Homo sapiens: one gene and its partner. The protein of the gene in region 1 interacts with the protein of each later gene in a biochemical or structural test. Each region holds a gene or a part of one and is shown in the gene's direction. Other genes may lie near its edges.

What was found. The genes of interacting proteins can lie anywhere in the genome.
Region 2: the proteins of LGALS3BP (region 1) and LGALS3 form a complex in vitro, tested with the Homo sapiens proteins (4 studies listed by BioGRID).

Annotation. Positions count from the first base shown.
Region 1 is NC_000017.11:78,977,970-78,981,714, reverse strand, and holds the start of LGALS3BP (galectin-3-binding protein precursor), read left to right. Parts: upstream 1-1,791; 5' UTR 1,792-1,891; intron 1,892-3,745.
Region 2 is NC_000014.9:55,127,329-55,131,073, forward strand, and holds the start of LGALS3 (galectin-3), read left to right. Parts: upstream 1-1,923; 5' UTR 1,924-1,972; intron 1,973-3,745. UniProt on the Homo sapiens protein: Galactose-specific lectin which binds IgE. May mediate with the alpha-3, beta-1 integrin the stimulation by CSPG4 of endothelial cells migration.

The DNA of each region.
Region 1 (3,745 bases):
CCCTGCCTGTCCCCTGTCAGCGCTTCCCTCCACCCCATGGTCATCGCACACCGGAAAGGCCTTGCGAGCCCCAGGGGAGCAGATGTTGGTGCTCCGATTCCACGAGGAGGCCTCTGGGTTTTCCATTTTACCTGCCTGGATGGCTTAGGACTTTCCCGGACTCTGGGGCTAAAGATTCGGCACCTGAGTTTTAAAACCTTTCCCAGCACTTCCCAGAGATGCCCTCCCGTCCTCTGCACTCCTGTCCTTCCCTGGCCACTTGGGCAGAAGTCATTAGCACTGCTGAGAAGGGATGATGCTGGGGTTTCTGTGCACTCAGGCCCTTAATCCAGATGAGATTTTTTTAAACTCCCCACAGCCAGTTCTATTTCCAGCTGCACCTGCCCCTGGATCTTCACAGTTCCTCTGGAGGGGATTAGGCAAACCGTGCAGCTGCCTAAAACCTCACACCTTGAAGGAAATAGTCATTGAATGTCTGACCTCTGGGCTGGCTGTCTCGGACTCTAAGCTGCCAGGGAACCAGGGCCTTCCACCCAGTGGGACTGCCTGGGGGCTTTTAAATGCCCCTGCCTGTCCCCTACTCCCAGAGATGGTGACTTCCTGGGTCTAGGCATTAGGAGTTTGTAAAACTCCCTGATGATTCTTCTGTCCAGCCCAGGCTGAGAACCACTGGTCAGAGGCCTGGGCACATCCCAAGGCTCATCCAGAACCATGGGGTGCAAGTGACAGAAACAAGAGCGGCTGCTGATTGCCTCACTGAGCGGTGAAGCCCAGCCTTGACCATGGATTAGGCCAGCTGGACCCAGGAGCTCAGGCCGGAGGATGCCTGCTTCCCTCTGCTCTGCCCCACCGGCCCCAGCAGCCTGGGCCCACATCCTCTCAGTCAGAAGCTGGCTCTCACCGGCTGGCTGGGCTCACAGCCCCACCCTGAAACCAGCAGTGTGGCCCGGGGCCCCCGCAGGGCTCAGACAGCCAGGCCTTGGGTGGTTGAAGGCCAAGAGCTGGGGGCCCTCTGGGAACCACACAGCCGGGAATGGGAGGGGGTGCTCCCCAAGGGACAGTTGAGGTGCCGGCTTTCAGTGGGAGGAAAGGGAATGGGTATGAGCTGGACAGAGCCATTATGTCACCCAGAGAGGCTCTGTCCCCCGCCCCGCTGAGGGGGAGACAGTAGGAGAGTGGCCACAGGTCCAGCAGTGGCGAGCACAGGCTCTGGGGTCAGGTGTTGGAGCAGGGTCCAGCTCCTCCACTGGCCAGCTGCATACCTGGTTCTCAGTGCCTCCCTCCCCTGGGGACAGGGGACAGTGCCATGCAACCTTGTGGGGCACAGGCCCTCTGTGTGGTCAGCATGCCAAGAGCACAGAGAGGGTGGATTTGCACATAAGCAGCCCCCTGTGTGGTGTTCACCCAGCCAGCAACGTGCTAGACCCAGGAAAAGACTCGGAGCGCTCTGTCAGAGTCCACAGCCACACCACCAGGTGCAGACTGTCTGGGCCCAGAGCCTCTGCTTCTTCCCCTCCCGTCCACCAAACGCCAGCCCCTGACCAGCCTGGCGGCCTTTCCAACTGAGTGTGGCTGTTAGTCCTCTTGCAGGCCTTGCTCCAGCCAGACTCCCACCTTGGGCCTCTGCCAGCCTGGCACTGATAGCCACAGGCAGAGCTGAGACAAAAGAGAGGGGCCCTGGGGAGTATCAGCAGCAGCCAATCCCGGAAGACATCTATGTCAGGTGGTTTCTGGAAATCGAAAGTAGACTCTTTTCTGAAGCATTTCCTGGGATCAGCCTGACCACGCTCCATACTGGGAGAGGCTTCTGGGTCAAAGGACCAGTCTGCAGAGGGATCCTGTGGCTGGAAGCGAGGAGGCTCCACACGGCCGTTGCAGCTACCGCAGCCAGGTAAGCTCCTGCCTCTAGCTCTCAGGTGGGCACCCCTCTCAGTCTCTCTCTCTTTTTTATTTTTATTTTTTTTGAGACAGGGTCTCACTCTGTCACCCAGGCTGGAGTACAGTGATGCAATGTCCGCTCACTGCAGCCTCTGCCTCCTGGGTTCAAACGATTCTCCTGCCTCGGCCTCCCAAGTAGCTGGGATTACAGGCGCGTGCCACCACGCCCAGCTAATTTTTGTATTTTTAGTAGAGACAGGGTTTCGCCATCTTGGCCAGGCTGGTCTCAAACTCCTGACCTCTGGTGATCCACCCGCCTCGGCCTCCCAAAGTGTAGGGATTACAGGTGTGAGCCACCGCGCCCGGCCAGGGCACCCCTCTCTCTACACAGGCAAGTGGGGGTCATGCCTCCCTGTTTGCACATAGGCCTGGAGCTGGGGATCCAGGGCTCCTGAGTCCAGCAACAATCATTGCTGCTCCCAGGCCCACAGGGCCTCTGTGTACAGTTGGGCAGATTACTCACTGCACAAGGATACCAGCCAAAGGGCAAGTGGGTTAGAATTCAGCTTGGCCCTCTCTCAGACCTGTGCATTTGGCCTAGGCCTGCACCCACTCCAAGGAAGAGCACCTTTTTTTCTGATTTGCACGAAGGGGCCAACACAGGCAGCCGGGTCTCAACTGTATGAAGGAATCAGGCAAAAATAGCCGCTGCCACACAAAGGGCAGCGACGCCACCTGCCAGGTGCTTCGTTGCCCCCCCCCCTTTTTTTTTTGAGACAGAGTCTTGCTCTGTCACCCAGGCTGGAGTGCAGCGGCTCACTACAATCTCTGCCTGCCGGATTCAAGCAATTCTGTTGCCTCAGCCTCCTGAGTAGCTGGGACTACAGGTGCACACCACCATGCCCAGCTTATTATTATTATTATTTTGTATTTTTAGTAGAGCCGGGGTTTCACCATGTTGGCCAGGCTGGTCTTGAACTCCTGACCTCAAGTGATCCACCTGCCCCAGCCTCCCAAAGTTCTGGGATTACAGGCGTGAGCCATCGCGCCTGGCCAGTTGGCCATTTTTCCAAGGCCCTGAGTTACTCTCCCAGGACGGACAAACCTAGTGGCTGCAGCAGAGTGAAGTGGCTGGGGGCAGAAGTGGAGAGGGCGTCCACCCATACCGGCGTGCCTGGGACTGAGGGGTTTCCCAGGACACAGGGAAACTTCAGTGCTAAAACCAGCACAGTCCCCAGCACACAGGACAGGCGGTCACACCCTGGCCCCTTTAGCCATCTACTGACATTGACACAGGGAGGAGAGGTGGGCTCCCCCGAGCAGACCCCCTGCCTGTGGCTCACTGACTGTGGATGTGGAGCCCATTTGCCTCTCTGGGTGTCAGCTCATTCACTTGTAAGGTGAGGTGTAACTAAGGTGGTTCTCAGGGTCACGGTAAGGCCTCCAGTGGTGCCCGGGGAGCCCCGACAAGGGGTGGCTGCACAGTGCCAGCGAGCACGAGTCCCAGAGCAAAGCTGCTCACCAGCCAGTGCACCCAGCTCCCAGGGCGCTTGTTCATGCAGACTCCCATGCAGAGGGGCTAGGGCAAGGCCAGCCATGACTGCATTTCCGACAAGCTCTGGGGATGCCATTGCAGCCGTCCACCAGGCCCCCTCCAAGCAGCCTCAAGGTCACCAGGCCCAGACTCCCAGCCGGTGCCCACAGCAGTGCCACCCAGAGGCCTGCCCCAGGCTTGCTGAACTGAGGGGACAGTGTCAGGTATCACAGGATTCTTACCGAGCCAGAGAAACCATAACTGTCTCTCCATTGGCAGGGTGTGGGGGAGGGAGGCAGACGAAGACAAAAGCGTGGAAATTACACGGAGGCA
Region 2 (3,745 bases), on another chromosome or scaffold:
GATTGGGTAATAAAGAGCCGTTTATTGCATGTGTACAAATTATAAATTCCCAGGCACACCCTGATCATAGCAGGATCCTTTTGTTAGCTTTATGGGGCATGAAGTTGGCACCAAAGTATTCATGGGGATGTACAAGTAAGGAAGGGAAGCCAAAAGCATGTCTGATCATACAATCAGGTGTAAGCAAGCCCCCTAAGTAGCCAGGGCATGAACTTTGTCTATCTCTGAAATGACCAGAAGAAAAGGCAAGAGTGTGATTCATCCCTTGCCTCCACAGCAATTCATTTGGCTATCTACTTTTCTTATTACCAATGGCTAACCCTCTAAGGGTACCACTCCTGGCCATGAGGCCTCATGACTCAAAGTCTTAAGATTTATAGCATTTTCCCTGGAGACCAAGGGCATTCCTTTGGGTGATACCTTTTTACTACCCAGAGGTTAGTCATTTACTATGGGTGATCCATTCAAATAAATTGGTTGCCAGGCTACCTCTTCAGATAAGAGTTCAAACTTGCATAAATAATCCCCAGCCACACTGTGACTTCTATGTGCAAGCCTAGAGGGGACGATGTTGCAGGAACCGTGCCAACCACTAAGACACTTTCAAGTTTATCCTAGAGAATGCCAAGACAGCTTCTCAATTCCATCAAGTGAGTCCTTCACAGGAACATTTCCCTAAGTTGAAAAACTGCAGGAAATAATTTATCTTTATGTTATTAATTGGTTACTATAAGGGCTACAGGAATTATTTAGGAACCAGATGATACCTGGTTTTCTCCATAGTTTACATAAGCCAGTCCCTGCAAAGATTCTTCCCCTACCCCCCTTAATTTTTTTTTTTTTCCTCAGAGATCCTTGTTCCAACCTGCAAGGATTCTTTGGCCTGGTGCTTTTCCAGGTAAAGTGTAAGAGCCAGGATTTCTGGATTTTGTTCCTAGACATGAGTGAGCTTGGATAAGTAAATCATTTTCTCTTTTAGTCTGTTTGGGCTTCTGTAACAAAATATCATAAACTGGGTAGCTTATAGGCAATATACATTTATTTCCCACAGTTCTGAAGGTCGGGAAATCCAAGATCCAGGCCAGCAGATTTGATGTCTGGTGAGGGCCTGCTTTCTGGTTCACAGAGGGAGCCTTCTGGCTGTGTCTTCACAAGGTGGAAGTGGCAAGGGGTCTCTCTCCGGCCTCTTTTATTAGGGCACCAATCTCATTCATAAGGACCCTGCCCCTATGACCTAATCACTTCCCAAGGCCTCCACTTCCTAATACATCACCGTGAGGGTTAGGATTTCAACATATGAACTTTGGCGGGATATAAACATTCAGACTATAGCACCCTGACAGTAAAAATGAGATAATAATACTTATCTCTTTCTTCCAACAAAAAGATAAGGTGAAGTTAAAAGGAGGGTATATATATATATAATGTGAATTTCCTGTGTAAAATGTGTTAAAGAGTTGTCTGATTAATTGCTTTATAAGGGAATTGCTTTGAGACTAGGCCTATTGATCTAGAATAAGTAGTCAATTTGTAGTCAGTTCCCTAGGGAATAGACATTGAAAAGATTTTTGGTTTTGTATTCTACAAATAAAGCAACCTATTAATTGAATTCCTCTCAGCGAATTCTTCACTCAGGTGATTCTGGAGAGGGCGGGGGACAGACGCGGCCGCAGCCCAGGTCCCGGGAGCGCCACGGAACCTAACGGTGGCAGCGGAGGTCGCGCCCCTCAGTGCCCGCGCTCTCCCCGTCGGGAGCTTCCTGGTCGCCCCTGCGGCGGCGGCTCGGGGTGTCTGGCCGGCGCGGGGCTCGCCCAGCCTGGTCCGGGGAGAGGACTGGCTGGGCAGGGGCGCCGCCCCGCCTCGGGAGAGGCGGGCCGGGCGGGGCTGGGAGTATTTGAGGCTCGGAGCCACCGCCCCGCCGGCGCCCGCAGCACCTCCTCGCCAGCAGCCGTCCGGAGCCAGCCAACGAGCGGTGAGCTGCGCGGGGCGCGGGGGACGCGGCTCCGGCCGGGCAGGGGAGAGGGCGCCCGGGCGCTGCTTGGGGCGCGGTCCGGAGAGGGTTCGGCTCCCCGGGACCGGGCCGGGGCGCGCGCGGAGAGCCCCACAGCCTGTGCTCTGCCCTCCAGGAGCGGGGCGGCGGGCAGCGATCTGGGCCCGGGGCAGTCGCCTTTGATTATCGAGGGCGCTGGCGTTCGGGGAAGGTTGGCAGCACCTTACGAGACCCACACACGTCCCCGGGGCGGCACGGGCCACCTTCTGCGGAGCCTCGTGGGCTTCGCCGCCGTCGCACCTCCGCCGCCTGCGCTCTGCGGCCCCAGAGTAAGCCCCATCCGGTGACGAGCCGCAGTCTGGTCACCCCAGTCCCACCAGGTCCCGCTGCGAGGGGAGGCGGAGGGGCTCGCTCAGCAAACCAGACGGCCGCTCCAGTTTCTCTAATTGGGGTTGGAGCCCCGTCACCCTTCCCCAGATCACGGCCGCGGGGGAGCGAAGGGACTTCCCAGGACTGCATAGGGCGCCTCCCGGGACCCACAGCTTGGCTGGCCCGGCCCCTTTTGAGCATCAGCTGAGGCTGGACTTGGAGGAGATCTCGCTGTGGAGCGCGAATGAGTTCTTCCACCGGGACCAGCTGCGGCCGGGCTGCAGCCGCTGTCTGGTTGCTGATCCCACAGAAAATGGTGCTTGCCCCATGGCCTGAGTGGGCATGACCCGGCTTTGCAAAGACTGCAAACTCTAAGCTTTTCCGAATCAAATGCCCCTCCCTGCCCAGACTGTCTGTGCCCAGGAAATGGTGGGTGTGGCAAAATGTTGGTCCTAGCGTGCAGAGCCCTACCGGGGGGCTTTCACAACATGTTTGAGAGTTTATTCTGAATTATCGGGTGCTCAAATAGAAACACTAAAACGATTGCCCTCTGAGCAGTAGGCGTTCAGGTCCAGGGAGTCGGGGACGCATGGTGGAGGCTGGGACTTAGGTTTCAGCCTTACCCTTCAAGTTCGCCATGCGGGTTCCAGAGACTGCGGAATGTTTGTAAAGTGACTCTGGGAATTGGGTTGCTGCGCAATGAGGACACCTGGACCTCAGTGACTCAGGCTGTCTCTAGGATTCTGGGGAAGAAATGGGAGAAGGCTCAGTTAATTCTGAAGAAAATGAGACTGATACAATTAACTACTTGGGCACAGGGCCTGAGAAGAAAAAGCTTTCGTCAGCTTCCAAAGTTCTGATTTGTTTACCTAAGGTTTTTTTTTTTTTTGAGACGCAGTTTCGCTCTTGTTGCCCAGGCTGGAGTGCAACGGCACTATCTCGGCTCACCGCAACCTCTGCCTACCGGGTTCAAGCGATTCTCCTGCCTCAGCCTCCCGAGTAGCTGGGATTACAGGCATGCGCCACCATGCCCGGCTAATTTTGTATTTTTCGTGGTGGTGGTGGTGGGGGGGGGGGGGTCCCTCCATGTTGGTCAGGCTGGTCTCGAACCCCCGACCTCAGGTGACCCGCCTGCCTCGGCCTCCTAAAGTGCTGGGATTATAGGCGTGGGCCACTGCGCCTGGCCTACCTCAAGTTTATAAACATTTCATACTAGGAAATTGTGTGTTTCCATAAAAGGTAAAGTTGAATAATGATCATTTACTTTTCTACAACAATAGTCTCCCTTTTAGACATTGACTCTCAATCCTTAGGGTAGGGTCTCTCATTCTAAAGATGATCATACCCCATCCTTGATCTTTGGGGGACTTAAGCAACTTCCTAAAT